Regions from separate parts of the Homo sapiens genome. Here region 1 is linked to region 2. Evidence: fine-mapped expression QTL. A gene starts in region 2. The other region holds a variant in brackets. All regions are shown on one strand. Distances are from middle to middle. Region 1 overlaps MAP3K5 (mitogen-activated protein kinase kinase kinase 5). Region 2 holds the start of MAP3K5 (mitogen-activated protein kinase kinase kinase 5).

Region 1 (15,244 bases), 55 kb before region 2:
ATGGATGAATCTCACAAATGCATTCTTGGGAGGAGGAATCCAGATACAAAGGACTAGGCACCGTGTGATTCTGCAATATTAAAAGTCACAATGGCGCACGCCTTGGAGAGGATGGGCCATGGCTAAAGGGGGCTTGAAGGGGTCTTCTGGGGTGCTGGTAAAGTTCTACTTCTTGATCTAGGTGCTGGTTACTCTGGCATGTTTGCCTTGTGAAAATTAACTCATTTCTAACCGATCATTTTGCCCAGAATGTTAAAAGAGAATTGCATTAGTTTCCTGTGCCATTGTAACTAATTATTACAAGCTTGATGCCTTAAAACAGCAGAAATGTCTTCTTTCACAGTTCTAGAGGCCAGAAGTCCAAAATCAAGGTGTAGGCAGTGCTCTAGAAGATAATCAGTTCCTTGCCCCTTCAAGATTCTAAGTTTTCGGCACTCCTTGGCTTGTGATGTGTATGCATGTGGTGTCAAATCGCCCTCTGCCTCTTTTACAAGGACACTTGTGATGGCATTTAGGACACACCCAGATGATCCAGGATTATCTTATCTCAAGATCCTTCACTTCATCATATCTGCAAAGACTCGTTTTCCAAATAAGGTACCATGCACATGTTCCAGTTCTGACATAGATATTAGGGTGGCAGGGGAGGTGAGGGACAAATTTTAGCTTACCACAAGGATTATAAAGAAGCTGCATGATAACGAAGGTAAGTACAACAGAACAAAAGGTGCTGAATACAAGATGAGGAAATGGAGGGAATGAGCCCAAAGGATTCTCCAAAGACTGGCAAAGAACAAAAGGTGATAAACGTTTTCCAAGGTCCATGGTAGGCACCTTTACAATCAGTAAGGAAAGCAAGAGATCAGACAATACTTTAATGGGACAGAAAGATCTAAAAGCTTTTAGTGTTAGAATGGTGTACTTGAACATTATTAGAACAAGTGGAGATTGTACGCATTTTTGAAGTCAAGCTGAAAGAAGAAAAAAAGAGAAAGATTTTAAAGGGAGTGCTAATTAATGGAGGCGATCTCTGTATTTTCAGATGAGACAGATGGGTTGGGTTCTATGACAGAGGAGAAAAGTCAACCATGGGGGAAAAGGGATACTTTAAAGGTAAGAAGGAGAGAAGTACCAGGCGCAGTGGCTCACGTCTGTAATCCCAGCACTTTGGGAGGCTGAGGCAGGCAAATCACTCGAGGTCAGGAGTTCGAGACCAGCCTGACCAACATGGTGAAATACCGTCTCTACCAAAAATACAAAAACTAGCCAGGCACAGTGGCGGGCGCTTGTAGTCCCAGCCACTAGGGAGGCTGAGGCTGAAGAATCACTTGAACCCGGGAAGTGGAAGTTGCAGTGAGCTGAGATCATAGCACTCCACTCCAGCCTGGGTGACAGAGCGAGGCTCCGTCTCAAACAAAACAAAACAAACAAACAAACAAAAAGAAAACAAGGAGGGAAGTAATTAATGGCAAAGACAAGGAAGTGATGAGGTGAAAGGAAGAACACCGATCTCCTCCTTCACTTCAGGTAGTGACTTGCTGATAGACAGCTGGTAGCCAACAGAAAGGAAAGCCCTCTCCAGGGACAGCTGAAACACGCCTGAGTGACATCACTGGAAATGTGCCTGAAAGTAGCACCACCTGAGCTTCTGCATGTCGTGACGCCAATTTGTCTTCTTTTTCACTAAAAGGAATTCATTTTAGCATTCCTTTTACTTGTGATAGTAACAACGCTTACAACTACAGCAACAGAAGCAAGATGTAAGCCTCCTAAGCATCAAAAACACCATTTTTTGAACTCTTATCTGCCTACAATAGAGGTAAAGGAAAATATGAAAAGAGGGAAGATCTAGACTAGATTTGAACTTTATTCTGCTTAGTGGCCACAGGCAAAAGCCTTAAATAGACATTAAAATCCCAATCTTACAAATGAATGTTCTTGGTCACAAAATGGACTGGACTAACAAAAAATCCACTTTCAAGCACATAGTACTTTTTCTTTTTTGAGACAGGGTCTTGCTCTGTTACCCAGGCTGAAGTACAGTGGCATAATCACGGCTCACTGCATCCTCGACCTCCTGGGCTCAAGCGATCCTCCCACCTCAGTTCTCAAGTACCTAGGACTATAGGCATGCACCACTATGCCCAGCTAATTCTATTTATTTTTTGTAGATACAGTGTCTCACTATGTTTCAGGCTGGTCTTGAACTCCTGGTCTCAACCAGTCCTCCTTTCTTGGCCTCCTAAAGTACTGGGATTACAGGCATAAGCCACCACGTCCAGCTTCAAGCACACAGCATTCGATGATGGTTTAGTAAGTGCTATTGAGGGAGCCCTGCAAATACTGTCACTGGGTTGTCTTCAAGTGAATCCCTCATATCACTTCACAAAAAAAGTGGGTAAATCACAGTTTATATCTTCTGGTGCATACCAAGTACTTTATGAAGAGATATTTTCCTGATATGAGCATAGCAGTCTCCTACATAATTTTGCTTATTAGAAAAGTACAAATAGGTCCTACCCAAAAAAGTGTTATTCTCCTTCCAAGTTAAAACAGAGCCTGATTTATGCCTTAACTTTTTTTTGTCTTTAAGTTAAAAAACAAAAAACAAACAAAAAAAACCTTTTTTTTTAGAGCTGTTTTAGGTTCATGGCAAAATTGAGAGGAAGGTACAAAGACATCCCATATACCTGATGCCCTCACACACACACAGCCTCCCCCATTGTCAACATCCCCCACCAGAGTGGTACATTTTTTACAACTGATGAGCCTACATTGACACATCATAGTCACACAAAGTCCATAGTTTACATTAGGGTTCACTCTTGATGCTGTACATTCTTTGGGTTTAGATAAATTTATCATGATATGTATCTACCACTAAAGTATCATAATTATAGGATCATACAGAGTATGAGACCATAACACCCTAAAAATCCTCTGCCCTAAAAATCCTCCAGACTTTGCCTATCCATTCAAAAATTTATGTTTTAATGTCATGGTAACAGCAATACAACAGGTCAATGACCTATAAAGAGTATATAAGAAATGTATAAGTCAAAATGAACCGTAAAGTTTATTATGTGACAGGGACATGCTATACATTATAAATAGAAATGGGGGCTGGGTGCGGTAGCTCACCTCACCGTAATCCCAGCACTCTGGGAGGCTGAGGCAGGTGGATTACCTGAGGTCAGGAGTTCGAGACCAGCCTGGCCAAAATGGTGAAACCCTGTCTCTACTAACAATACAAAAAATTAGCCAGGTGCAGTGACACACACCTGTAATCCCAGCTACTTGGGAGACTGAGGCAGGAAAATTGCTTGAACACGAGAGACGGAGGTTACAGTGAGCAGAGATCATGGCACTGCACTCCAGCCTAGCCAACAAAGCGAGACTCTGTCTCGGAAAAAAAAAAAAAAAAAAAAAAAGGCAATGGGATAGGAGGCTAGTTTGTTGGTAAAAATTTCTGTATCGCCACGGCAAACTATTTTTCTCCTTGAAATGGTTATATTTCATGAAGGTGTGCTGGGTTTGAGTCTATATGCATAAATTTAGATCTCTATAAACTCATTTTGTATAAAACATTTCAGTCCTTAAGTAATAAATCTATTTTAATTAGATACTGAAAAGGCTGCTCATGAATATATGAACAGGCTTTTGTGAAGCTTATTACAGTTTTATTGTGGTTAAGGTCTATGTCATTTGTTTTTTTGGTCTCTCATATTTAGTTTTAATTAAACCATCAAAGCTTCATTCATTTATGCTTCAGTGAAGTTCCTCGGTCACACAGAGTAGCCCTTTGTAACTGTAAGATTCTTATGGGAGCATCCTCCCTCACAACCCAAACCAATAATCTGCCTCATTTAATTGGCACTTGTTTAAGTTACATAAGGTTATAGGAGTTGATTTGTGATAATTTTTGAAGAAAATCCAACTGTTCCTCACAGATGTGGATGCTGAGTGACATACTCTTACCTAATCGTCCTATACCTCTACAACCTCTTCACATGGAAAACAGAAAGAGGACAGGGAGAACTTCACATTCTCTGATGATGTTCAGTAGCAAAAATGGCTATGGTAGTTTAACTCATGCTTGAGGTTGTTCTGATTAAGAGGAGGTATTTCTCACTCTGGCTAGGGAAATAACTGTCATTTATATGAATTATGTTTACATAAGCATTAATAGTTATTAAAGCAGTGTAACATGGTGATACAGAAAAACTTAGACTCTAGAAAATTCTACAGGAAAAATGACCTGAATTCCTTAACAAAAACATCACAGGGGAGAAGAGGAGATGAAAGTAGAAATTAGATATTAAAAGAGACTTAAGGAACATAGTCAACTGTAATGTGTGGACCTTGGTTGGATTCTACAAAAGTAAACTTTAAAAAATCATGGCATTTATGAGATAATCAAAATTTTGAAAACTGACAGGATATTTGATGATATCAAGAAATGAATTATTTTAAGTATGATAAGGTACTGTGTTAGGAGTCCTTATCTTTCAGAGAAGAAAAATGTAGCATGATAGGCCGGGTGAGGTGGCTCAAGCCTGTAATTCCCAGCACTTTGCGAGGCTGAGGCAGAGGATCGCTTGAGTTCGGGAGTTTGAGACCAGCCTGAGCAACAAAGTCAGACCCCATCTCTATAAAAAGTGTTAAAAATAGCTGGGTGTGGTGGTGCGTGCCTGCAGTCCCAGCTACTAAGGAGCTGAGGCAGGAGGATGGCTTGGGCCCGGGAGTTCAAGGTTACAGTGAGCTATGATCGTGCCATTGTACTCCAATCCGGGTGACAGAGCACGAACCTATCTCTAAAAAAACAAACAAAAAAAGCATGATAATTTCATCCTATGTTAAAAAATAAAGAATGCTAATGTCTGGCACCACATGATGTATGCATTCCTTATCAAAAAAGCATTATCTTGCATGCCATAGAAATATAATTGTAAGTAAGAAACACTATACCATTATTGCTGTAGAAAGAAAATCAGTATTTTTTTTTCTTTCTACTCCTGTAGAAACTAAATTAAATGAAATCCAGTTGCATACTATTTATGGGCAGAAATCGTTGCTCATCCTGGTAAGCAAGCTAGTTTGGAGGGTTTTCCTCTTGTAATTATGGCTGTCATTTCTCGTGGTCTTAAATCCAGTTGGATCTAAGAAGTGTGGGTGAGCGCCTGGGAGCTCCACAGTGCTCCAAGATTCTTAATGTGTCAACGAATGGAAACCTCTCACAGTCAGGATTCAACATCTCTAAAAGAGGCCATACCCTTTCTTTCTACTCTGTTAAGCTCACTTTCGACACCTAATAATTTCATCTAGTCAAAATGTGCAATAGTTTTTGTTCAAATTTACTTCTTCTAATAGTATCTGTAATTCTGTTGACATGACAGATGTATAAATGATTCTGCCAGTAAATAATTTCATTCCTAGCGTACGTGTTGACATTCCATTTAAGTCCAACAATCCATTTAAGGGGGTTTGAGACTTCTTTCTTGAGAATTATTAGAGGAAATGAATAAGATTAAAACTATTCATTGTTAACTGATCTTTTAACTGCTGACAGACAGGTGGCTGGACTTCACTGACTATAATGAAAGAGTCTGGTTCTTTTTTCTTTCTTTCTTCCAATTGATTAAATCTATCAGTAAAGGAATTCGCATACTCTAGGAAAACTAATGTTGTTGTTTTAGAGACAGAGTCTCACTCTGTCACTCAGGCTGGAGTGCAATGGTATGGTCATAGCTCACTGGGCTCAACTGATCCTCCCACCTCAGCCTCCCAAGTAGCTGAGACTACAGGCATGCAGCACCACTCCTGGTTAATGTTTTACATATTTTTTCTAGAGACAGTGTCTTGCTAATTGGCCCAGGCTGGTCTCAAACCCCTGGACTCAAGTGATCCTCCCACCTCAGCCTCCCAAAGTGTTGGGATTACAGGTACGGATATGAGCCACTGTGTACAGCCATGTTGTTATTTTTTTAATGTGACAAATTAATTTTACATATATATATGTGTGTGTATATATATATATATATATAAACTTAGATGTGATTATATAAATGTCTCTTTAAAAGAAGGCTATCGACGGAGGCCAATATCCTAAGCAAATTACTGCAAGTACAGAAAACCAAATTCTGCATGTTCTCACTTGTAAATGACAGCTAAACATTAAGTACACATGGACATAAAAATAGGAATAGACACTGGGGATACTAGAGACGGGAGGGTGGGAAGGGGGCGAGGGTTGAAGAACTACCTATTGGATATTATGCTCACTACACCTGGGTGATGGGATCATTCGTACACCAAACCTCAGTGACACTCAATTCACCCCGTAACAAACCTGCACATGTATCCTCTGAAACTAAAATAAAAGTTGAAAAAAAGGCCAGCCACACAGAGATGAAGACAGGGAACCAAAGACCCTCACCAGCCCCACAATGGGGAAAATGAGATAAGCCTGCTGAATAGAGACAACAGACCAGAAAGGAAAGGAGAGGGCAGCCCCCGCCATGTATCACATACTAAGTCCCTCCAAGGAGCCCTTTGACGGCTTCTTATCACGCTGCCCAGGAGGCTCCGGTTTCTTCGCCTCAGCTTCCATCCATCATAGCACCATGGAATTAAGAACTCCCTTTACTCTGTTCTCCCACATGTTGATTTTAACACACATGATTGTCTATACTGTGCAAAGTACTGAGAAGGGGTCAAAGAAATCAGCATCAGCCCTTCATGGGCTGATAACCTTCAAGTGCAATGGCTGGACATGTGAGCAGCAGAAGTGCAAAGTCAAATGAAATAGATGTAAATGTTCTTTGGGAGCAGAGGACAAGGAGTGGCTGATTCTTACAGGAGTAATGGAGAAGGCCATTCAGGGCAACAGCTTCACAGTAAGCCTTGAGAAGTGGTAGAATTTCAGGATGCAGGGCCTGGGAAGAAGGGACATTCCTGGCTGCTTTGCAATTGCATAATATAGGAGTTTCTTTTTACCAGAAAAAATTGCTCCACTACCTAAGAATGGACATGTACACCACCACCCACCGAATGAGAAATGGCTTATCGCTCTGCCCAGCTGGTCTTTCCACAGGAAGTTTACAGGGAGAAAAATAAATTGCACAATCATTTTTTGGGAACACTTTTCAGTAAAAACTTTTCTTATTAGGGAGAAAGAAATTTCATTTTACTTGTGTCTTTATGCATTCTACCATGCCCGACTAAATGCATCCTCTCCTGTAACGTATCGCTTGGATCCCCTACTTCCCTGGTCCAAGGGGAGTTTCGGTACCTCTTCCTGGCAAAGCTCTCTCTACTTGAGACCTTATAGCTGCGGACCTGCTTGTCTGTGTCCTCCAAGGGACCTGACTGTTTTAACAGAAATACCCGGCAGAGGAGGCATTTGATGGTAAGGAGACAGCTTCTAATTCACATTGCTAAAATGAGAGACAAACAAACAAACAGAAGACAACCTGTGGAAAAGGCTTCTGAATAATAAAAAGAGTCTTCCAACTGGCACTCAGCCCAAGAGTCCACAGATCATCACCACAGCAACAGACAGTATTTGGAGGCAATGAGGAGCACAAAATGCAGATCTGGCAAAGGCATTAGCAAAATTATTCATTTCAAGGAGACTATATAAGCTCCTGAATTTGTAGCATTCGCTTCTATATGTATATTAGCCATCAGAAACAGAAAGAGCTAATGAGCTGAAGTGCTGGTGAGAACAGTCAGGGTACCACATACAGCTAGCTCTACTTGGAACAGACGGCTGATGGCCTAAGGAACCTGTAGCCACGTCAGCTCCAAAGCAGGGACCGGTTCAGTCATCAGTGCAGCCAATGTTCATGAAATCCCTACTAAGTGCCAAGGGATACTAAGTGCTAAGGTCCAAGGGATACAAAAGTCATCCAAACACACACACGCGTGCACACACACACACACACACACACACCCATGCACACTAGGTTCCTGCCCTCAGAAAGCTTATGATCTAGCAAGAGAAGAGACAATCAAATAAACGTACAAAAACAAATGCACACTGTGGTAAGTGTGTTGACGACATGACACAGGGCATTTTGAACAGTACAACAGACAGAACTGATTCGTCAGTGGAGCTCCCCTGACAAAGTAATGGTGTCTGAAGGAGATATAGAAATAAAGGGATGTAGAAGTAAATGTGGCCTATCAGTAGTCAGTGCTGACCAGGCATTACAAATGGCCATGGTGTCGCTCCTGCCTGCTATGCCTGGGGTGTAGCTGGCTGGTGTCAGAATGCCCAAATCCACACTTGCTCTGTGCAGCCCTCAACACCCTGAGCCCATTTCCTCACCTGTCAACCAACAATAACAATAGTCTTTGTCACAGAAAGGGCTTAACAACAAAGAGGTGTCAATGAACATCAGCCACGACTAGAGAGTGGGCCATGGGTCAGGGGGACATTCACCCCTCACTCCCACCCCAGGGTACTGTCAATCACTTACAGACATTTTTCTTATTTCCTGTACTTTTTTCTCATACTTTTCCTATTCGATAAACAGGAAGTATGGAATCAGTAAGATGAGTTTCATTCTTTTCAGTAGACCCTTTAGTGCCTTAAAAAAGTCTGTAGTTAAAGAGCATCTTCAAGAGAGGTCCTAGACCATATGGACACAACCAACATTTGCAGTCACTATTTTGGGGGGTCTGAAGGGGGCAGACCAGGGCAGCTAATGGCAAGCCCCGTAGAAGGTGCAGAAATTTTCCAGCTGAATAAATATTCCAGTTTGCTTCAAACAGTCTTAGATGTCTGTTATCCCATGATATGTATGATCTCATTGTCATTTCTAGTAGATCCCCCCATTCATTCTCAAGTGTCCTGGTTGGGCCCTAAGCAAGCGGCAGTTCCTGCACCATTAGCTGTCCCTTCCATGGGCAGTGGCAGCAGGGGCCTGTAGCTGCCAAGAAACTCAGCAGGAGCCCCTCTTTACAGCTGCTACTCTAGGTGGCTTGGCCCCGGGGCTTCCACAGGATGAAGACCCCAGCCCTGCATGTTCTTCAAATTATTCTCAGACACAAGCTGCTTTTTCCAAATCTCCCAGCCAAGGTAATGATGGAAATTTTACAAATGGCATGGAGTAGAATCAGACAGCTTTTAAACTCCAGCCCTCGCTCTTCACAGTAAATTGCATTTCATCTTGCTGCAATTTTTCGTCTTTTCTTTGGTCATTTCTTGTTTGTGTGGGAGTGTGCACAGCGGGGCTGGGGACGGGGGAGGTGAAGTGTTTTTCCCTTCTTTTTACCTTCCCCCTCTTTCACCTTTAATCTTGGTTTTCCTTTTTTGGAATCTACATCTTCCTCCAAGGGCTGATCTTTGTCTTCTTGAATTTCTGCTGTTTACTTATGATTTCTTACTGAAAATATTCATGTCAC[G/A]TCAAGTTTCTTTTAGACATCAACAAGCCAGAGCTGGTTTTATAATGCAGACCACGTGTCCCCTGAGTCCTGGACTAAAAGTCCCAAATACTCTTTGGAAACTGGCTTAAACCAGGTCGTCATATCTGAAAGACTTCTCCCCAGCTCTTTCTACCTCCGTGTGATTTATTTAAGAGCAAGACTGAGACAATAAAAAAAAAGAAAGATTTAAAAAAAGAAGAAATGTTACCTGAAATTCCACCATCCATAATCCCACCATTAACCAGATGACATTTTTCCTTGGATTCTCGAGTGAGTTTTTATGTTAGCTTACTTTTAGAAAAAGTGCTACATAAGTTATTTTCTTAAACTGCTCTGAATCTTCCCTTTGTGCCTGTCATCATAAATAAACCAGACTTCTGAGAAGGAGCTTGAGTGCTAAATTACAAAGGGGCAATTTTCTACCATTTAATTGGATCCTACTGCTCTGTACGAGAGCTAGATTTTTTACTTGTTTTGAAAATGAGGGTCACATTAAGATGGTGAATTTTTTTCACTCCTGGAGAGACTATTTACTTCTTCATGTTGAATTCCCAATAGTTCTCACCACATTTCATTATAATATATGCACTTGCTTTTCCATCAATAAGACTGTCTTGGTTGTCGATATAGACCATGACAGTAGCAATGTGAGCCTCTTAACTAAATGTAAGAAATAATGAAACTATATCCAGGCAAATGATAAACAATTTAATGGTTGACAACCCTCAAAAATATAATATATTTAGTCCTTAGTAGCAAATAAATATACATATTAAAATGACCTGTTATTAGCTAGCACACGGAGATACTAACCATTTTGGTATTTCACTCTAAGCGTTTTCCTATACAATTTATTATGCATACAAATAAACATACACATGCCCATTTGGTATGGGAGCAAAATTCAAATTATTGATTTATATATTATCAATTCAAAATTGAATTATAGATAATGTTTCAATCACAACCACTTCTAATTGCTAACTTCACAGCTGGAGAAGCCTGAATAAGATGTTGATAATTTGCAGTCAAATCAAAATAATAAAAGTGTTCAAATACCTACAAAAAAAAAAAAACCCTATAGCTAACATCATACTTAATGGTGAGAAACTAGCTTTCCCACTAAGGTGAAGAAAAGGGCAAAGCTGTCCCCTGTCACCACTCCTTTTCAACATCATACTGGAAATCCCAGCTAATGAAATAAAATGAGAAAAAAATAAAAAGTATACTGATGGAGACAAGAAATAAAACTTGTCTTTGTTCACAGATGGCAGGATCATCTATGTACAAAACCCAAGAGAATCAACAATAACAAAAACCCTCCTAGAATTAATAAGCAATTATAGCAGGGTTTCAGGATTCAAGATTAATATGCAAAAGTAAATTGCTTTTCTATATGTCTGCAATAAACAAGTGGAATTTGAAATTAAAAACACAATGCCATTTACATTAGCACCCCCAAAAATGAAGTACTTAGGTATAAATCTCACCAAATACGGATAAAAACTATATGAGGAAATCTATAAAACCCTAATAAAAGAAACCAAAAAAGAACTAAATAAATTGAGAGATATTCCATGTTCATAGATAGGAAGACTCAATGTTGTCAAGATGTCAGTTCTTCAAAATTTGACCTATATATTCAATGCAATCTCAAGCAAAATCCCAGCAAGTTATTTGGTGGATATTGACAAATTGATTCCTAAGTTTATGTGGAGAGGGAAAAGACCAGAAGAGCCAACACAATATTGAAGAAGAACAAACTGACATTACCTGATTTCAAAACTTACTCTAAAGCTCTATAACAAGACAGTGTGGTGTAGGTGAAAGACTACAGAAATAGATCAACGGAACAGAATAGAAGCCCCAGAAATAGATCCACATAAACACAGTCAACTGATGTTTGACAAAGAAGCAGAGGCAATATAATGAAACAAGGATAATCTTTTCAACAAACGGTGCTGGAACAACTGAACCTCTACATGAAAAAAAAAACAAAAAACAAAAACAAAAAAAACACAAAGATACAGACCTTACACCCTCTGCAGAAATTAACTCAAATGGATCATAGTTCTAAATGTAAAATGAAAAACTATAAAACTCCTGGAAAATAACATAGAAGAAAATCTAAATGACCATTGGTATCATCATAACTTTTTAGATACAATATCAAAGGCATAATAAAAGAATTATAAGCTGGACTTTATTAAAACTAAAAATTTCTGCTCAGCAAAAAAAATTGTCAAGACTGTGAAGAGAATGAGAAGACAAGCCACAGACTGAGAGAATATATTTGCAAAAGACATATCTGTTAAAGAGTGTTATCCAAAATATACAAAGAATACTTAAAACTAAAAAATAAGAAAACAAACGATGAGATTAAAAAATGGGCCAAAGACCTGAATGGATACCTCATCAAAGAAGATATACAGATAGCAAGTAAGCATATGAAAACATGTTCATGGGGCCAGGCAAAGTGGCTCACTGTTGTAATCCCAGCACTTGGGGAGGCCAAGGCAGGAGGATCACTTAAGGCCAGGAGTCATGGTAGAAGGACTACCTGAGCCCAGAAAGCTGAAGGCTGCAGTGAGCTATGCTCATGACACTGCACTCCAGCCTGGGTGACAGAGACCTTGTCTCTAAAAAAAAAGAAAAAGAAAAAGAACAAAAGATGCTCAACATCATCTGTCATCAGGGAATTGCAAATTAAAACATTAAGATACGGCTGGGCGCAGTGGCTCACGCCTGTAATCCCAGCACTTTGGGAGGCCGAGGCGGGTAGATCATGAGGTCACGAAATCGAGACCATCCTGGCTAACACGGTGAAACCCCGTGTCTACTAAAAATACAAAAAATTAGCCGGGCATGGTGGCAGGCACCTGTAGTCCCAGCTACTCGGGAGGCTGAGGCAGGAGAATGGCATGAACCCGGGAGGCGGAGGTTGCAGTGAGCCAAGATCGCGAAACTGCACTCCAGCCTGGGTAACAGAGCAAGACTCTGTCTCAAAACAAAAACAAAAACAAAAAAAAAATTGAGATACCACTACACACCTATTCGAATGGCTGAAATCCAAAACACTGACGCCATCAAAGGCCAGTAAGGATGTGGAACCACAGGAAGTCTCATTCATTGATAATGGGAATGCAAAATGATACAGCCACTTTGCAAGACAGTCTGGTGGTTTATGATAAAACTAAACGTTTATACTATTGCTATACAACCCACCATTTGCACTCCTTGGTATTTACCCAAATGAAGTGAATTATTATGTCCACACAAAACTTGCACACAGATGTGTATAACAGCTTTATTCATAATTGCTAAAACTTGGAAGCAACCAAGATGTCTTTCAGGATGTAAGTGGATAAATAAACTGTGGTACAGACAGACAATTCATTATTATTTAGGGCTAAAAAGAAATGAGCCATCAAGCCATGAAAGGACACGAAGGAAACTTAAATGTACACTGTTAAGTGAAAGAAGCCAGTATGAAAAGGCTGTGACATTCTGAAAAAGAGAAACTATGGAAAAAGCAAAAGGATAAGTGGTTGCCAAGGGTTGTGAGGAGGGATGAATAGGCAGAGAACCAAGATTTTTAGGGCAGTGCAACTATGCTGTACAATATACTACTATAATTGTGGATACATGTCATTATACATTTGTCCAAACCCATAAAATACACAACACCAAGAATGAACCCTAATGTAAGCTATGGGCATCAGGTGATAATGATGTGTCAATGTAAGGTTCACCAATTGTAACAAATGCACCACTCTAGATCAGTATATTAACAGCAGAGGAGGCTGTGTTTGTGGGAGGGTAAGGAGTTTATGGGCAGTCTCTGTACCTTCTGCTGAGTTTTGCTGTAAATCTAAAACCGCTCTGAAATACACATATATATGTATATATACACGTGTGTGTACATACATATATACATATATATATGTATATATGAGAACCCTTGACTCTCCCATGCCCAGAAAAGTCTCTGTTCATGGTGTCAGGGTTATAAGGAAGGCTCCTGACACTTTGACAGAAGCCAAAGAACTCCCACAGATATCTTGAGATTGTGCTGGAAGGAGGACCTAGTCCATGCCACCACAGTTTGGAAATCAGCAGCTCCCAATCCAGCAGCAGAAAGTAGAACTTCCAACCCCATGCACTCCAACATGGACAGGTATCCACACCTTGCACACCCCTCACCAGCACCTACACCAGGGAGTTCTGGTTAGAGAAGTTACGGCTCAATGAAGTGCAGCTGCAAAGCCTAGTCACTTAAAGAATAATTCACAGCCTTGGCTGCACATTGTAATCACCTGGGGGCTTTGAAAAGCAGCAAGTCTGAGTCCTCAGCCCAGAGATCCTAATTTACTTGGTCTGGGGTGTAGGGTGGCCATCAGGATTTTTGGAATCAGGTGATTCTAATTTTCAATAAGACTAAGAACCACAGATTTGGAAGCTGATTTAAAGACACTCATCCATCAACCATGCCGCAGAGCACCGACTGCTTATTTTAGCATTTTGATCCATTATCATGCTCCTTAGAAATTCTGGCAACAAATATTCATTTTCACATTAATGGAAATAAATTGCTCTTAAAATGAAGACCAGTGTAAGTGGTATTTGGCTGGAACATAATGTTTCCTGTTCAGAATACTGACAGGGCAGCAGCGGGCATACACTTGGCAGTCATTAAAGTTTTTTTTTTTTTTTTTTTTTTGAGCAACTTAATTGGAGCTTCGGCATCTATTATGTATCTTGTTTAGAAAAGTTCCTTTAAATTGAATAGACGAAGATGACTATTTTTCCCTTTCCTATATCAGAGTATTAAAAATGGGATAAATATAATCATGTATTTCACCAACACAAATTGTTGGGAAGAAAATTAATTTTCTCTCCATGTTCAACTCTCAACACACGAATACACTTTTTGAAAATACAAGAACACTGACGTGACCTAGAAAAAAGGTTTTGTCAGGGCACTCAAAGAGTTAAAGGAAAGGCCGGCCAGCTCCCTGCCTCTGGCTGCTGTGGCAGGGAGGAGGATGCTGGGAACGCTCCCCACTGAATGGCTCTTTCTCCCCTTCTTTGAGCTGGGAGTAGAGGAATGCAGTGACTCCCAGCACACCTACCATCCTGCCCATGAACATCACAAGACCCTGTTCACAGGGTGGACTCTAAAAATAAAATTCCTTGTGCCGCTGCCTGTGCCTCAGTTTTTCTGCAGGCATTCTGCATGTTTCCGCTGCTTGTTTGTTCAAAGCCTTCCAGCTACACACACAGAAGAAGGGCCCGTGGACATGAAAAAGAGCTCACATCTGTATCTGCTACTTAACAATATTTTCAATAAAGGCATAGATAATGTCTTTTTTGGTAGCAAGAAATTTAATCTAGATAATTCCGAGGAGAGTTAGCATAACCCAGAGATTTCTTAGTCACGTTCCAAAGTCTCATCCTAACGTTAGCTTAATGTCTAACATTGCTTCTCCCTTAAACCCAGATTGATTCTGCTTATGGGATGTTAGTTGGTAAGGAGCATGCATAGCCTGGAAACAGGGTCAAGAGAAGAAGCAGGAAGACTAGTTAGGAGACAGCTGCATGGGTCCAGGTGCGAAATGCTGATGATGTTTGAACTAGGATGGTGGCAGTTTTGGAAGAGTGTCAGATACTTCAAATGATTTAATATCTTAACTCTTGACTTCCCCAATAGAACAAATACCAACTATGGTAAATACAGCAGGTTTATGGCTTAATGTTCAAGTTAATAAGTATTCTCTAGGTTTACAGAATGAAAAAACCAGACATAAAGGAC
Region 2 (15,244 bases):
TTTGGGATCTGTCCACCTACACAGGGCAACACGATAGTATTGACATCTCTTAGCTTTTACGGAATTTTCTGCCTACAATGCAGAGGGCAAAGAAGGGGTATTGTCAGCTTGGCTTTGCTGTCTCTGAGTGACAGTCTCTTGTATACGTAAATAAGATGAATTTTCATAAAAGCATTGACAGAGCATTAGCTTCACCTCAGAAAGAAAATGAAAAAGCAAATGACAACTGTAGTCAAAGAAGAAATTAAAATATAGTTAAATAGTAAACAGATCAAGAAAAAATCAGTGAAAACCTTTAACTTGCAACCTATTCTTTTTAAAGACATCAGTACACAAAGATTGGGAAAGTTTATTAAAAATGTTACCAAACTTTAAGTTCTTCTTTTTTTTTTTTTTTTTTTTTTGAAACAGGGTCTCATTCTGTCACCCAGGCTGGACTGCAGTAGCACGATTTCAGCTCACCGCAGCCTCAGCCTCCCAGGCTCAAGGGATCCTCCCACCTCAACCTCCCGAGTAGCTGGGAATAAGTTCTTACTCACTCCGTTAGGTTGAGCTATTCGAACATCACTGTTTCCCATGTAAACGTTGAGACCTTCATTAGGCTCTCCTTGCTTACCCTGCCATTTCACTTCAGGTGTCACCACCTTTAAGAAGCTACCCCTTGCCAGGTGTGGTGGCTCACACCTGTAATCCCAGCTCTTAGGGAGGCAGAGGCAGGAGGATAGCTTGAGCCCAGGAAATTGAGACCTGCCTAGGCAATATAGCGAGACCCCATTCTCCACAAAAAGGAAAAAAGCAAACAAAAAACAAGCATAAGAAGCTACCCTTGAACCCACTGTATCCTCAATCTGATTTTTGAAGCTGATTCCTGGGAGCCCAGCATCCTGGCACAGAGGCACTGCTAAGGCAAAGGCATTGGTCTGCCCTCCCCACCAACTCTGAGCTCTTCAGGGGCAGGAATATGATATATACAAGCAGTTCATTTAATCTCTACGAGCTGAAATGATTCATTTGTCTTAATAATGCTGTCATTTTAAAGTACAGAATTTGAGAGCTGGAGGGAATCTCAGATACCAATTATTCCAACACTCCACTCTTTTCTGAGGCTTTAAATGACTTGCTCCAAGTTAGAAAAGAATCAGGACCCAAAGCCAAACCTTGAAAATGCTGTTCTAATGCTTTGTGCCTGCATCCCATGCCACCTTGCCTTTGTAAATTCACAGGATTAAATAAGGGAATCCTAAAAAAATGTGTTCAATTCCCCCTTCACTTCTAACCCTGGTCAATTTTACAGGCAAAGAAACACCACTGGAGGCAATGAAGGGCCGTTCTCACAATTACATGGTTCACAGCAGAGCTGGGATGAAAACTCGGATCTAATATGAGGGACCATGTTCTTCCCACTATCTCATAAAAATTCAACTTTCAAGTACAGGTCATGGGTGTAGAGCAAAGGTCAGCATGGCACAGGGGCCAAATCCTGTGGGCCACCTGTTTTTGAGTATGGCTTGCAAGCTAAGAATGGTTTTTACATTTTAAAATGGTTATAAAACAAGAAATCATACTTTGTGAGGTATATGAAGTTCAAATTTCAGTGTCCACGAATAACGTTTGGTTGGAACATAGTCATGATCATTTGTTTAGGTCCTGTTTATGGCTGCTCTTGAGTAATAGGGCAGAGTTGAGAAGTTGTGAAAGAGACCTCAAGAAATGAAACCACACACCTAACACCATCTGATCTTCAACAAAGTCAACAAAGTAAGTAATGGAGAAAGGACTCCCTATTCAATAAATGGTGCTGGCTAGCCATATGCAGAATAAAATTGGACCCCTATCTATCACCATATACAAAAATTCATTCAAGATGGATTAAGGTTTAAATGTAAGACCTCAAACCATAAGAGTCCTAGAAGAAAGCCCAGGAAATACCATTCTGCATCAGCCTTGGGAAAGAATTTATGACTAAGTCCTCAAAAGCAATTGCAACAAAAACAAAAATGACAAATGGGACCTAATTAAACTAAAGAGCTTCTACACAACAAGAGACACTATTAAGAGAGTACAAAGACAACCCTCAGAATGGGAGAAAATATTCACAAACTACGCATTTAAGAAAGGTCTACAAATCAACAAGCAAAACAACAAATAACCCCGTTAAAAAGTAGGCGAAAGATATGAACAGACACTTCTCAGAAGAAGGCATACAAGCAGCCAACAAACTTATGAAAAAATGTTCATCATCACTAATCATCAGAGAAATGCAAATCAAAACCACAATGAGATAACATCTCACACCAGTCAGAATGGCTTTTGTTAAAAAGTCAAAAAATAACAGATGTTGGCGAGGCTGCAGAGAAAAGGGAACACTTACACACTGTTGGTGAGAATGTAAATTTGTCCTGCCACCGTGGAAAGTAATTTGGAGAGTTCTCAAAGAACTAAGAGCTGAACTACCGTTCGACCCAGCAATCCCATTACTAGGTATATACCCAAAGGAAAATAAATTGTTCTACCAAAAAGACACCAAACCAGATATTGAATGTTCTCACTCATAAGTGGGAGCTAAACATTGGGTACAAGTAAACTTAAAGATGGGAGGCTGGGTGCGGTGGCTCACGCCTGTAATCCCAATACTTTGGGAGGCCAAGGCAGGAGGACTGCTTGAGGCCAGGTTTGAGACCTGTCTGGGCAACATAGCAAGACCCCGTCTCTACAAAAAAAACATAGTAAAATAAAATAAAATTAGCCCAGCGTGGTGGCTCATGCCTGTAGTCCCAGCTACTCGGGAGGCTGAGGCAGGAGGATCACTAGAGCCCAGGAGTTCGAGCTAGCAGCGAACCATGATCATGCCACTGCACTCCAGGCTGGGCAACAGAGTGAGACCTTGTCTCTAAAACAAATAAAATAAAATAGAAACAAAGGGTTTGGATAAAACTGATGCACTACCTTCATTCTGTCACATTTTCATGCTTTCATGCTGACTGAGAGGGCACTCATCCTGGGAGTTCATGCCATCCAGATGGGCAGGGGTTAAACTGAGACCTGTCTAGGTTGAAAGAAGCAGTACGAAGGGACAGAGTGGGCGCAGGAAAAAGAGGCTTCCGAGAGCATGCCCTCCCCACTATTCCATACACACCTAAATGCCTGGTAAGATCTTTGCCAGCTCACTCACATGATTCCAAGATAGGGAGCTTCCCTTGATTCTGAGAGTAACTCAGCCCACCTAAATGGAGGAAGCAAGGGCCAAGCACAACCTCTTTTTTTTTTTTTTTTTTTTTTTTTTTTTAAGACAGAGTCTCATTCTGTCACCCAGTCTGGAGTGTGCAGTGGTACAATCTCAGCTCACTGCAACCTCTGCCTCCCAGGTTCAAGTGATTATCCTGCCTCAGCCTCCTGAGTAGCTAGGACTACAGGTGTGCACCACCATGCCTGGCTAATTTTTGTCATTTTAGTAGAGACAGGGTTTCACCATGTTGGCCAGGAGGCTGGCCTGGAACTCCTGACCTCAGGTGATCCACCCGCCTTGGCCTCCGAAAGTGCTGGGATTACAGGCGTGAGCCACCACGCCTGGCCCAAGCACAACCTTTTAGGGTCAGCCACCTGAAGTGGAATCCTGCATTGGCCACTTACTCCCTATGAATCCTAGGGCCAGTTAGGGATCCCTGGGTTTTCTCACCTAAGAAGGTAAGTACTTCCTTCACAGGCTTGTTTGGAGGATTCAATGAAATACACTCAAACTTCAGCTCCCTTCTAATCATTCTCTCTCCCTTTCCCAGAGACAGTATTTGGAGAATAACAGAAACCAAGCCTTGTTAGGAAAGTTTCTTTCAAATTAGCTTAGAGTTTAACATTTTTTTTCTAGAGCCCTAGGAAAAAAACGCCCAATCAGTGCAATAAAAATAGGCTCAAGTGTTCAGTTGGGTATTTTCCTCTCATATCTTTTAGTTCTTTGAAGTTTCTTCCAAATTATAATCCAAAAATAAGAGTGCTACAATTTTTAGAAAAGTTATGTTGATGTAACTTTTATAGCAAGCTACCCAAAGAATCAAGCTATATTATAGCCATGCTCAGTTATGAAGACCAAAACTATTTTAAAAATACCAGAACGAGAAAGTCCTAGTTTATTTAGTCTGGCTTCCTTAACATGAAGGTCTTGTTGTTCTCAAAATATTCAGCTTTGGCTGAATTCCAAAACTGACATAAGCCCACTTCAGGTGTTTGGAAGACACTAAAGAGAATCAGAATTGAAAACAAGATTGGAAAATAAAGCCTTTTATGTGATCACAAATGCAAGAAGTGTATTGTTTTGAAACTACTAAACCAAGTTTTTACCCACAAATGTAAACATAAATATGTATATATTCTCAACACTGGACGTACAGGGGACTAAAGGTTAATTTCCATAATATGGTATTATTCCTAACATTTGCTAACAGCTAAGTGCTTCAGTTACTAGAACTGCCTTAACATTTTCTGAAATTTGAGATAGGTTGAAAGATACATTTCTTTCATGGATTATGCTAGCAATCACTTTAATGGCGAAACTAATCTTATTATTAGGATAGCATACAGGTGTTTTAGACAATGTTAAATTACAAACTTTCTAGCCCACCATGGTTTATGGGGTAATAAAAAACAGGCCCTGGTTCTTTCACCAAAATCCTTACAAAGATAACACACAAGTTCAGTGTAAGTTGTAATGTTATTGCCTTTGGAAGCACTGTAATTACTTCAAAGTCTGGGTTGGTGAGAGGAAATTCAAGCTACTAAAACTTATCGAAGGTAAGGTGAGTTGGGAAGATCATCACATGGCATGCAAATTAATATAGTTACACTCTGCGTGCATGGTATGTCATCGTTCCCGTACTCTCAAAACTACACAGAGAAAAGGAGAACCTCATCTAAAACGGTCACAGGTATATGCAGAAAGAAAACAGGGACCAAACCTCACAGAAGCGAAACCGAGACACTGAAAGGAGAAAGACTGACTGGGGCAAATATCTCACACTGCTGGAGAACAGTTCAAGTCGATCGCATGGACCCAGGGCTCCAGCGCTGGGCGGTGGGTGGATCCATAGGTCTATCGCACAAGTACACACAGACTCTTGCACAAGCACACACGCTCTCTCCGGAGCGGCGAGCGACAGGAGCAGTCACGCAGCGGCGCTCGCTGCCCCCAAAGTGGGGCAAGAAGTAAATGCTTCCCGCCCAGAAAAATGAAATGCCCCGAAGACCGCCAGATTAAACGCGGGTCCCGACCGCGCGGGATGGGAAAGGGGTCACACACGCACCTGCATTGTAAAAGCGGTCCAGCACGGTGGTTTCTCCAAAGTCGAGTTTCCCAAAATGCAGGGTTTCCAGGGTGGCGCCCACTGTCTCGCACGCCTCCCGCAAGCTCTGCAGGGCCTCGCTCTCGGCCACCACCAGTTGCCCTTGGCTCGCTTCGTTGATCACATATGCCACCGTGGTCCGTCGGCTGCCCCCGCCAACAGAGCTGCCCCGGCCTCGGGTGGCACTGCTCGAGGAGGTGGCCGCCGGACAACCGATGCCAGGGGCAGCGGCGCTCTCCACGTTCCAGAAGCTGCCCGGCGGCGGCGGTGGCAGCTGGTGCTCCTCGCCCTCGCCCACCGCCGCCGCTCCTCCCCTCCTGCAGATGCCGCCCTCGGGGATGGTGCAGAAGCCCGAGGGGGCGAAGGGTGGCACAGAGAAAGTGATGCCCTCGTCCGCCTCCGTGCTCATCTCTCCGGGCCGGGCAGCAACGGCGGCGGCGTCCCCCGCCCAGCCGCACCGCCTGGCCAGCCACAGCTCGGGGCTGCTCCGCGCCCGCCGGGCTAAGCAGCTGCCATCGCGCGCCGCGCCCTCGCCGCCGCGCCGCCGCCTCCTCTCCGGCGCCCTCTCCCCCGAGGGCACGCCGCTGCCCGGCGGCGGCTCGCTCCTCCTCGGCGCCTCCGTGGCCGCGCCGCTCGCCCTCTGCAGAGTTTAGAGTACAAGGGGTGGGGAAGCCGGGTGAGCGGGAAGGGACGGAGCTTCCTTTTCTTGGCCGGCTGACAAGTCGGCTCGCAAACCTGCGCCGCGGTGCAGCTCAAGGGCGCCGCGCTCGGGGTGCAGCCCGCCCTCGCCACCCGCCGCGCCGCGCCGCGCCGCGCCGCGCAGCTCCTTCCGTCCCGGCCGCTCTGGGAGGGGCCAGGAAGGGCGCCCCCTGGGTGCGGAGCTACCTGGCGCGCACCTTACGAGCGGGCTGGCTCCCCAGGCGGCGTCCCGGAACAGCAGCAGCGGCAGCCGAAAGGACCCTCCTCCCTCTTAGGCGGCAGCTCGCCTTCATCGGGTGGATTTCCTCCTCCTTGCCTGGCCTCGTTTCTCTTTCGATCGCCTCCGCCGCGTGGTCCCGGCGCCAGCCTCGTCGTTCCTTGCAGACGCTCTCCCTCTCCACCACCAGCTTCTGGCCACCCACTCGTAGCGGCACCGAGGGTCAGGGCCAGCCCCCAAGGAGGGCGCTGCTAGGAAGCTCGAGCCCGGACTGAACTGACCGCGCTGCGGCCCTGGGACCCCAGCCCTCCTCTGAGTGCTGCGCGTGGCATAGGGTCCCAGTCTTCACCCACCCGGCCCCCACCTACGAAGACCTGGAGCGCAAGCGATTACGGGGTGGCGCAGAAAGTCCCTCGAGGCAATACTCGGTCTTCGGAGTCCGCCCCTGAAGCATTTCCAGTGTTCCCCGCGACTAGGGCGCCCCCCTCCGGGCCTTGGCGGCCTGGTGGACTGGGACCGTGCGCGGCGCTGGCAGGATAGGCTCCGGGAGACCCACGTTGCGCGAGGCAGGAGGTTGTACATAGCGCCCTGGAGCCAGGGCCTGCACTGGAGGTTGCTTCATTAGTGACTGTGGCACTCCAGAAGTGGCTGGCTAAATTGATCAGGTTCTCCCATGTACTTTTCCTTTTAAAATTTCCAGTGGCTCATTCCGTTATCAGTAATGAGTAATTGATTAGTGCCAACTGCCGAAGGACTTAGTATTCTCATTTAGGATCTTAATTCCCCCACAAGCGCCAGATACTTAAGATAGAAGATGGAGTCTCTACCCGACTCCACAAATTATCAACAAGATGAAACAGGGGAATAACGTGACCTATTCTATTTTTTAAACTGCATCACGCGAGGCCGGGAGGGAAATACCCAGATTGTTTAAGAGCAATCAAAAAAAGTACCTGCTTATTTGGGGAGCAAAGAACAGATGTGTAAGTTCCCAGAGAACCCCAGAATGCTGTAATTGTTAGGAAAGCCAGTGCAAGTTACAACTGAGTAAAGAAACAGGTTTTGTACTTCCCATCTCCAGGAACTGAGACTAGTGAGTCCTGTGAAAAAGGCAGAAGAAAATGTAAATTACTTTTTTTTTTTTTTGAGACGGAGTTTCGCTCTTCTTGCCCGGGCTGGAGTGCAATGGCGCGATTTCGACTCCCTGCGACCTCTGCCTCCCGGGTTCAAGCGATTCCCCTGCCTCAGCCTTTCGAATAGCTGGGATTACAGGCATGCGCCACCACACCAGGCTAATTTTGTATTTTTAGTAGAGACGGGAGGGGGAGGGGTGTGGGGTTCACCATGTTGGCCAGGCTGGTCTCTAACTCCTGACCTCAGGTGATATGCCCGCGTCGGCCTCCCAAAGTGCTGGGATTACAGGCGTGAACCACCCAGCCCAGCCATGAATTACATTTCAAACTGGGTAAGAAGGAAGGATAAAATAGCTGAATAGTAAAGAATTAAAGGAAAGTCTGGGCGCAGTGGCTCACGCCTGTAATCCCAACACTTTGGGAGGCCGAGGCGGGCAGATCACTTGAGGTCAGGAGTTCAAGACCAGCCTGGCCAACATGGTGAAACCCCCGTCTCTACTAAAAATACAAAAATTAGCTGGACGTGGTGGCAGCCGCCTGTAATCCCAGCTACTCGAGAGGCTGAGACAGGAGAATCGTTTGAACCCGGGAGGTGGAGGTTGCAGTGAGCCGAGATGGCGACACTGCACTCTAGACTGGGCGACAGAGCGAGACTCCATCTAAAAAAAGAAAAAGAAAAAGAATTAAAGGAAAGAGTTCTTTAATTTTCTCCAAGGTGGGAGGATTGCTTGAGCCCAAGAGTTCAAGATCAGCCTGGACAACATAGTGAGACCCCCATCTTAAAAAAAAATAATAATTAAAGGAAGGAAGGAAATAGTCATGAGGAAAAACACCTAGCCGCTACACAACTGTATCAATGAATCAATGTGACATTAGATTTTTCTAAAGGTGTATAAAATAATAGAAGTAAATTTCTAGTAAGGAAACTTTATATTCTTCATGTAAAATGGAATCTATGTGACCCACACTAGCTTTTGGAATTAATATCAATAGTAAAATAGGTAGTGAATCAGTGATTATACTGAAACAAAATGTTGCTGAGCTAGTAATAGTTATGTGCCTTTTAATATTTTCAACAACTTGTCAAACCTCCAAAACCTTGTAGGAGTAAGATAATCCTCCCCGCTATCCTCACCAAGAACCACAAACTCTGGAAATCGATGAGGTTCATGTGTGGAAAACTAAAACGCCTAAATGCTCAAGTAGCATTTTACTGTAGAAATACAAAATCTGAAATTATATATCAAGCTATTTTCCAAAGCTGTAACTTTTTATACCCTCTCACTTTGTGCTTTCCTTCCAGATCCTTTCAGAGCCATTTTCATACACAATTTTTATTTTTTGTTTTACTTTGCTGGCTTTTTTGATTTATTAACTTTAAATATGTTTTTTATGTTAGGCACCCAAACCCCAATACAATGTTGAAATTCTGCTTCTAGCTGGTCCAGAGATTCTCCCTCTACCTAAAAGGCACGGTTTAGGTAATTTATGTTCCATAGCATAGGGTTATGAGATAATGAGGAACTAGCTGGCAAGATTCTGGAAGAAAGGACAGGAATCCAGAGGGTGAGTCTACAGTCAGGGTTCCCTTTGGCTGTGGGATTTTTGTGGATCTGAATTAGGCAGCTGAAAGGCTGAAGTGAATTTTTTTAATGAAAAATAACGGTATTTTGCAAAACAAAACAAAAAGAATGGTGACACCGTTGTGCATTTTCACAAATCTTTTTAATGTCTGGCTTAATAGATGACAGTGGATTCTCATTTCTGCTTCTACATTCATGCTGTTGCAGCATGTTGTTTTGGTTGAAGGGTATAAAGAAAATCTGGAGAAGTTTCTGAAGTGTAGGAGGTATTTGAAGAAGTACATGAAGAAAATACTCTGGGAGGAGCACAGTCACTCCCACTGTGAAGGCACACATGAATTCCTAAAAATCACTGAGCTGTGCAAAATAGTGCTTTTTTTAAAGTAATTTCAAGTTTTATTTTAGATTCGGGGGTACATGTGCAGGTTACATGGATATATTGCATGATGCTCAAGTTTAGGGTACGATTGTTCTTGTCACTCAGGTAGTAGAAAGAGCACCCAACAGTTGGTTTTTCAACCCTTGCTCCCTCCTTCCCTCCCGTCCGCAGTGTCTGTTGTTACCATCTTTATGTCCATGTGTATCCAATGGGACCCTCTCCTGGGAAGGTCTTAAGACCCACAGTCAGAAAGGTGGGGGGTTGTTAGCAGGTAAAAGGAGAGCAGGAAAAAATTAGAGGCCTGCCTCTGAGGCCTAACACACTCAACATAACAGAAGACTATAACGAGGGTTATGGGAGTTACAAGCCAGAAACCACAGATGAAAACCAATATATATCGTAACACCACACTCTGTTCATAGTTTCTTTGGTTGTGCAGAAGCTGTTTAGATTAGGTCCCGTCTGTCAGTTTTTCGTTTTGCTGCAAATTGCTTTTCAGGACTTAGTCATAAATTCTTTCCCAAGGCCGATGTCTAGAATGGTATTTCCTAGGTTTTCTTCTATGATTCCTAGGGTTTGAGGTCTTACATTTAAATCTTTAACCCATCTTGAGTGAATTTTTGTATATGGTGATGGGTAGGGGTCCAGTTTTATTCTGCATAAGGCTAGCCAGCACCACTTATTGAACAGGGAGTCCTTCCCCATTGCTTATTTTTATCGACTTTGTTGAAGATCAGATGGCGGTAGGTGTACGGCTTTATTTCTGAGTTCTCTACTCCGTTCCATCAGTCTGAGTGTCTGTTTTTGTACCAGTACCGTGCTGTTTGGGTTACTGTTGCCTTATAGTACAGTTTGAAGTTAGGTAATATGATGCCTCTGGCTTTGGCTTTAGCTATTCAGGCTCTTTTGGGGTTTTATTTTATTTTATTTTATTTTTTCCTGCTGTTCTACAGGCTCCTTTTTGGTTCCATATGAATTGTAGAATAGTTTTTCTAATTCTGTGGAAAATGATGTTGGTAGTTTCTTAGGAATACCATTGAATCTGTAGATTGCTTTGGACAGTGTGGCCATTTAAACAAGATTGATTCTTCCAATCCATCAGCGTGGAATATTTTTCTGTTTGTTTGTGTCATCTATGATTTCCTTCAACAGTGTTTTGTAATTCTCCTTGTAGGGATCTTTCACTTCCTTGATTGGATGTATTCCTAGATTGTGTGCGTGTGTGTGTGTGTGTGTGTGGCTATTATAAATGGAACTGTGTTCTTGACTTGTCTCTCAGCTTGAACGTTATTGGTATATGAAAATGCTACTGATTTTTATACATTGATTTTGTATCCTGAAACTATACCGACATTGTTTATCAATTCTAGGAGCCATTTGGTGGAGTCTAGGTATAGAATCTTGTCTTCAGGGGATGAGGCGCAGTGGCTCATGCCTGTAATCCCAGGACTTTGGAAGGCCAAGGCGGGTATATCACTTGAGGCCAGGAGTTTGAGACCAGCCTGGCCAACACAGTGAAGCCCCATCTCTACTAAAAATACTGAAAAACAAATTAGCTGAGCATGTAGTCTGTAGTCCCAGCTACTTGAGATGGAGGTTGCAGAGAGCCGAGATCGTGCCACTGCACTCCAGCCTGGGTAACAGAGTGAGATTCTGTCTCAAAAAAAAAAAAAAAAAAAAAAGATTCTTATCTTCAGGGAAGAGAGATTATCTGACTCCTTTTCTTATTTGGATGCTTTTTATTTCTTTCTCTTGCCTGATTGCTGTGGCTAGGACCTCCAGTACTATGTGGAATACTGAGAATGGGCATCCTTGTCTTGTTCCTGTTCTTGAGGGCAATGTCTTTAGCTTTTGCCTGTTCAGTATTTGTTAGCTCTGGGTTTGTCATAAATGGCTCTTATTATTTTGAGGTATGTTCCTTTGATGCCTAGTTTGTTGAGGGTTTTTATCATGAAGGGATGTTGGATTTTATCAAAAGCTTTTCCCATACCTATTGAGATATTCATCTAGTTTTTGTTTTTAAATCTGTTTATGTGGTGAGTCACATTTATTGATTTGCATATGTTGAACCAACCTTGGATCTTAGGAATTAAGCCTATTTGATCGGGGTGAATTAACTTTTTGATGTGCGGCTAGATTCAGTTTGCTGGTATTTTGTTGAGGATTTTTGTGCCTGTGTTTATCTGAACTGAATTCTTGATAACATCTTGAGGACAAAATTAAAGATGATATACCCTACAAGTAAGAGTGAACTATAGGTTAGATGGCCCGTACGTGGACAGCAATCCTGCTTCCATTCATCTGAGTAACCCAGAAAGAAGTCTCAAACCCTAAAATTGTATTAAGGTAGTTCCCTGCATTTGAGAAACAAAATTCACTCCAGAGGAAGATGACATCATCTTGGGCCATGAATTATTTCTACAAATATAAGATCTGTAAATGTAAGCAAATATTTGAATGCACGGTAGCATGGTGGAATCAGAGCAAGAATGTGAACTGAAATTTTTGCCATCTGTTTCTGATTTTCCCCTCTAGATTCACTCTCCATTTATATCCCCCAGAGTCTCTGTCTTGGGAGGCTATGAATTAAGTCAATGGGCTCCCTTCCTTTCTGTTTATCAGTTGGATTTGGTCAGTGGGGAGTCCAGGCAGGGATCTGCAGGAGGAAGGACATTGGGAGCTGGGTATTTCTCTCCTGGACTCACTCTGTATGAGTCACTACAGGCTGGCTGTGTTCTTCAACAGAAGGTTATTGCTCTTCCCAAGGTGACAGCTCCTATGGGACTCACTTTCTAACAGGGTCTCATAACTGTCCCTTGCTTTGTTGTTTATTGGCACCTAGAAATGATAAAGTTGCTGGCCCCAAGCTCATGAAGAATTCCTTGAAGCCTCCTTATACCCTTCCACAGCTTTGTAATTAGTCTTTTTGTAAATAAACCCACTTCAAATTATCCTACCTGTTTCCTGTTGGGACTCTGATAACTACTAATGAGCGTTTAGAAATTAGAAAACTAATTTAACCTTTCTGGACCTGTTTCTTCATCCACAAAACACAGTGTTGAATTAGATTCCACTGAAAATCCTTTGAAGCTCCAATGTGCTATTTTAAGTATTTAGTTAAGATTCCAGTTCTTATACTGAATTGAAATGTGTAAAGAATGAAAATACCACTGGGCAACCATGTAGTAATAAGGGAACTTTTTCTTTACAGAAATATTCCAGCTAATGCATACAAAAGCCTGATGTCATTATAATATCACCATTTTGTAACTCTTAATGAATTTGGATTCAGATATCAATCTTTTTTTTTTTTTGAGACAGGTTCTGGCTCTATTGCCCAAGCTAGAGTGCAGTGGCTCCATCTCAGCTCACTGCAGCCTCTGCCTCCTGGGCTCAAGCAATCATCCCACCTCAGCCTAGTAGCTGGGACACAGACACGTGCTACCACACCCAGTTAATTTTTGTATTTTTGGTAGAGACAGGGTTTCACAATGTTGCCCAGGCTAGTCTAGAACTCCTGGGCTCAAGCAATCCTCCTGCCTCAGCCTCCCAAAGTGCTGGGATTACTGGCATAAGCCACTGCACCCAGCCTACATATCAATCATTAATAGTCACTAATATCATTAAAAGAGAGATGACCAGATTATTGCATGCCTCCTGATGAAAGAACACACCATCAACCATGAAGTAGTCATCCCAAAAACAGTGGACATGAATCTATCAAAGCCCCAGAACCCAAGGCCTGGGTTCAACAGTTAATTTCAGGACATATTAAAGTCATAAAAACAGGGTCAAATACTCTGGAGATGCAATGAGTAAAATCTAGACTGTAGGAAACTCTATAAGACAAATGGCTCACTTTCTTGCATGAATAAATTGCAGTGGTGGAAGAGGGCAACATTGAGATTAAAAGATTGTTAATTTGTAAAGATATAATAATACTATTGTGCTTATGTTAAAAAGGGAGTCTTCATATTTCAGAGACTCCATACAGAAATACTTATAAATGAGGTAAAATGATTTCTGGGATTGGCTTAAAAATAATATGGTAGGAGGTACAGGAATGCGTGAGAATACAGATGAAAGAAGATTGGCCCCGAACTAATGATTTTTTATAATGGGTACATGGATGAGGTTCATTATACTAGTCTTTCTACTCTTGTATATGCCTGAAATATTTCATAATAAAAAGTTTAAATAAAATAAAACCATGGAAACAAAGAATGTAAGACATTTTCATATGAAAAATGTTTTAACATTCTGACCACAAAAGAACATGTGTATAGTCTCATGCAAATCATCTTTTTATTTCATTTTTTATTTTTGAGACGGAGTCTGACTCTTTTGCCCAGGCTGGAGTGCAGTGGCACGACCTCAGCTCCTCAGCTCACTGCAATCTCCACCTCCCACTTCAAGCAATTCTCCTGCCTCAGCCTCCCGAGTAGCTGGGATTACAGGTGTGTGCCACCACACCCGGCTAATTTTTGTATTTTAGTAGAGACAGGGTTTCACCATGTTGGTCAGGCTGATCTCGAACTCCTGACCTCAGGTGATCCACCTGCCTCGGTCTCCCAAAGTGTTGGGATTACATGCGTGAGCCACTGCACCTGGCCTAATTAATACCTATTTTAATGTGGTGAGTGTTCCTATTGAGAGCCTAAACAGTTTTTACTTTGAAAATTAAGCCATGCCTGGGCATATGTGGACTCAGAGAAGAGTCCACCAGGGGAATCAGCTCATGGCTAATAGAGAAGCCTTATGAAGGTCAATAACCCCAGGAAAGAAACAGCAATGGTAAATCATTATGAGAGTCGCCTGCAGATGGAAGTACAACAGGGCAAGAGTGACTCAGTTTGCCCTGCAGTACTGCTTGCACAAGAGAGGCCCCTCCCTTGGGCTCTATGTTTTGGAGGGCCCAGCCATGTCCCTTTCTCAGAGAATCAGAGGTATGAACCCACAGAAAAATCCTCCTCTTCTAATTTGCCCTCTGGAGACCCCAGACCCCAGGATTATCTGCTCAAGCATCATCAAGCCCATTTTCAGAGCCTATTTGTGAGGGCTATAGATGGAGTTTGGCTGCTGAGGCTGGGATGTCTCCAAAAATGTCTATAAGATCTTGCAGAGCTAAAGATGGCAAGAAAGGTCACTCTCTCCATGCTACCGCACTTGGGTGTGGAACTCCAAGAAGTTCAATTGTAAATTCAAAATCCACCTTCCTAGCCTTTATGCAAGTATATTTGTCAAGGACAAATATATTTATTTAATAGTATATTAGCCTGATTAATAACTTTTAGGTAGGGCATGGTGGCTCACATCTATAGTCCTCACACATTGGGAGCCTGAGGCAAGAGGATCACTTGAAGCCAGATTCGAGACCAGCCTGGAAAGCATAGCCAGACCCCATCTCTTAAAAAAACAAAACAAAACAAAAAACCAGCATGGTGGCACGTGCCTGTAATCCAGTCTACTCAGGAGGCTGAGGTGGGGGGATCATTTGAGCCCAGAAGTTCAAGGTTGCAGTGAGTTATGATGGTGTCTCTGTATTCCAGACCAGGTGATAGGGCAACACCCAGTTTCAAAGAAAACAAAATTTTTTTTTTGTACCAAAGTCCTAGCTAGTGCAATAAGGCAAGAAAGTAATAAAATGAATAAATATTGGAACTAAAAAAGTAAAACTGCCTTTATTTGTAGACATGATTGTGTATGTATAACATCTTAAAAAATCACCAAAAATAAAAAATGCTAGGACTAATAAGAAGTCCCAATTTAGATATCCCAAATGTGATCTAAAAGTTCAACACAATGTCAAGCAAAATTTGTGCAGGCTTATTTTTGTAGAAATTGATAAGCTACATCTAAAATATACTTTTAAAGGATATGAATACATATATAAACATATGAAA

Evidence for each region.
Region 1: its variant is fine-mapped to the expression of MAP3K5 in aorta (GTEx, PIP above 0.99).

Annotation. Positions count from the first base shown.
Region 1 is chr6:136,731,014-136,746,257 of GRCh38, forward strand. All of the region lies in intron 1 of MAP3K5 (mitogen-activated protein kinase kinase kinase 5), which reads right to left. Among named protein-coding and RNA genes, the nearest start is that of MAP3K5-AS2, 45 kb to the right of the region's middle. RefSeq lists an enhancer at 14,010-14,179. The variant G/A (reference allele first, on the strand shown) is at 9,412.
Region 2 is chr6:136,786,419-136,801,662 of GRCh38, forward strand. MAP3K5 (mitogen-activated protein kinase kinase kinase 5) reads right to left here and starts at 6,059. Exons shown (of 30, transcript NM_005923.4): 1 at 5,292-6,059. The coding sequence starts at 5,739. RefSeq lists enhancers at 4,809-5,324, 5,430-5,499, 6,290-6,519, 6,630-6,689, 7,060-7,139 and a silencer at 5,630-6,269.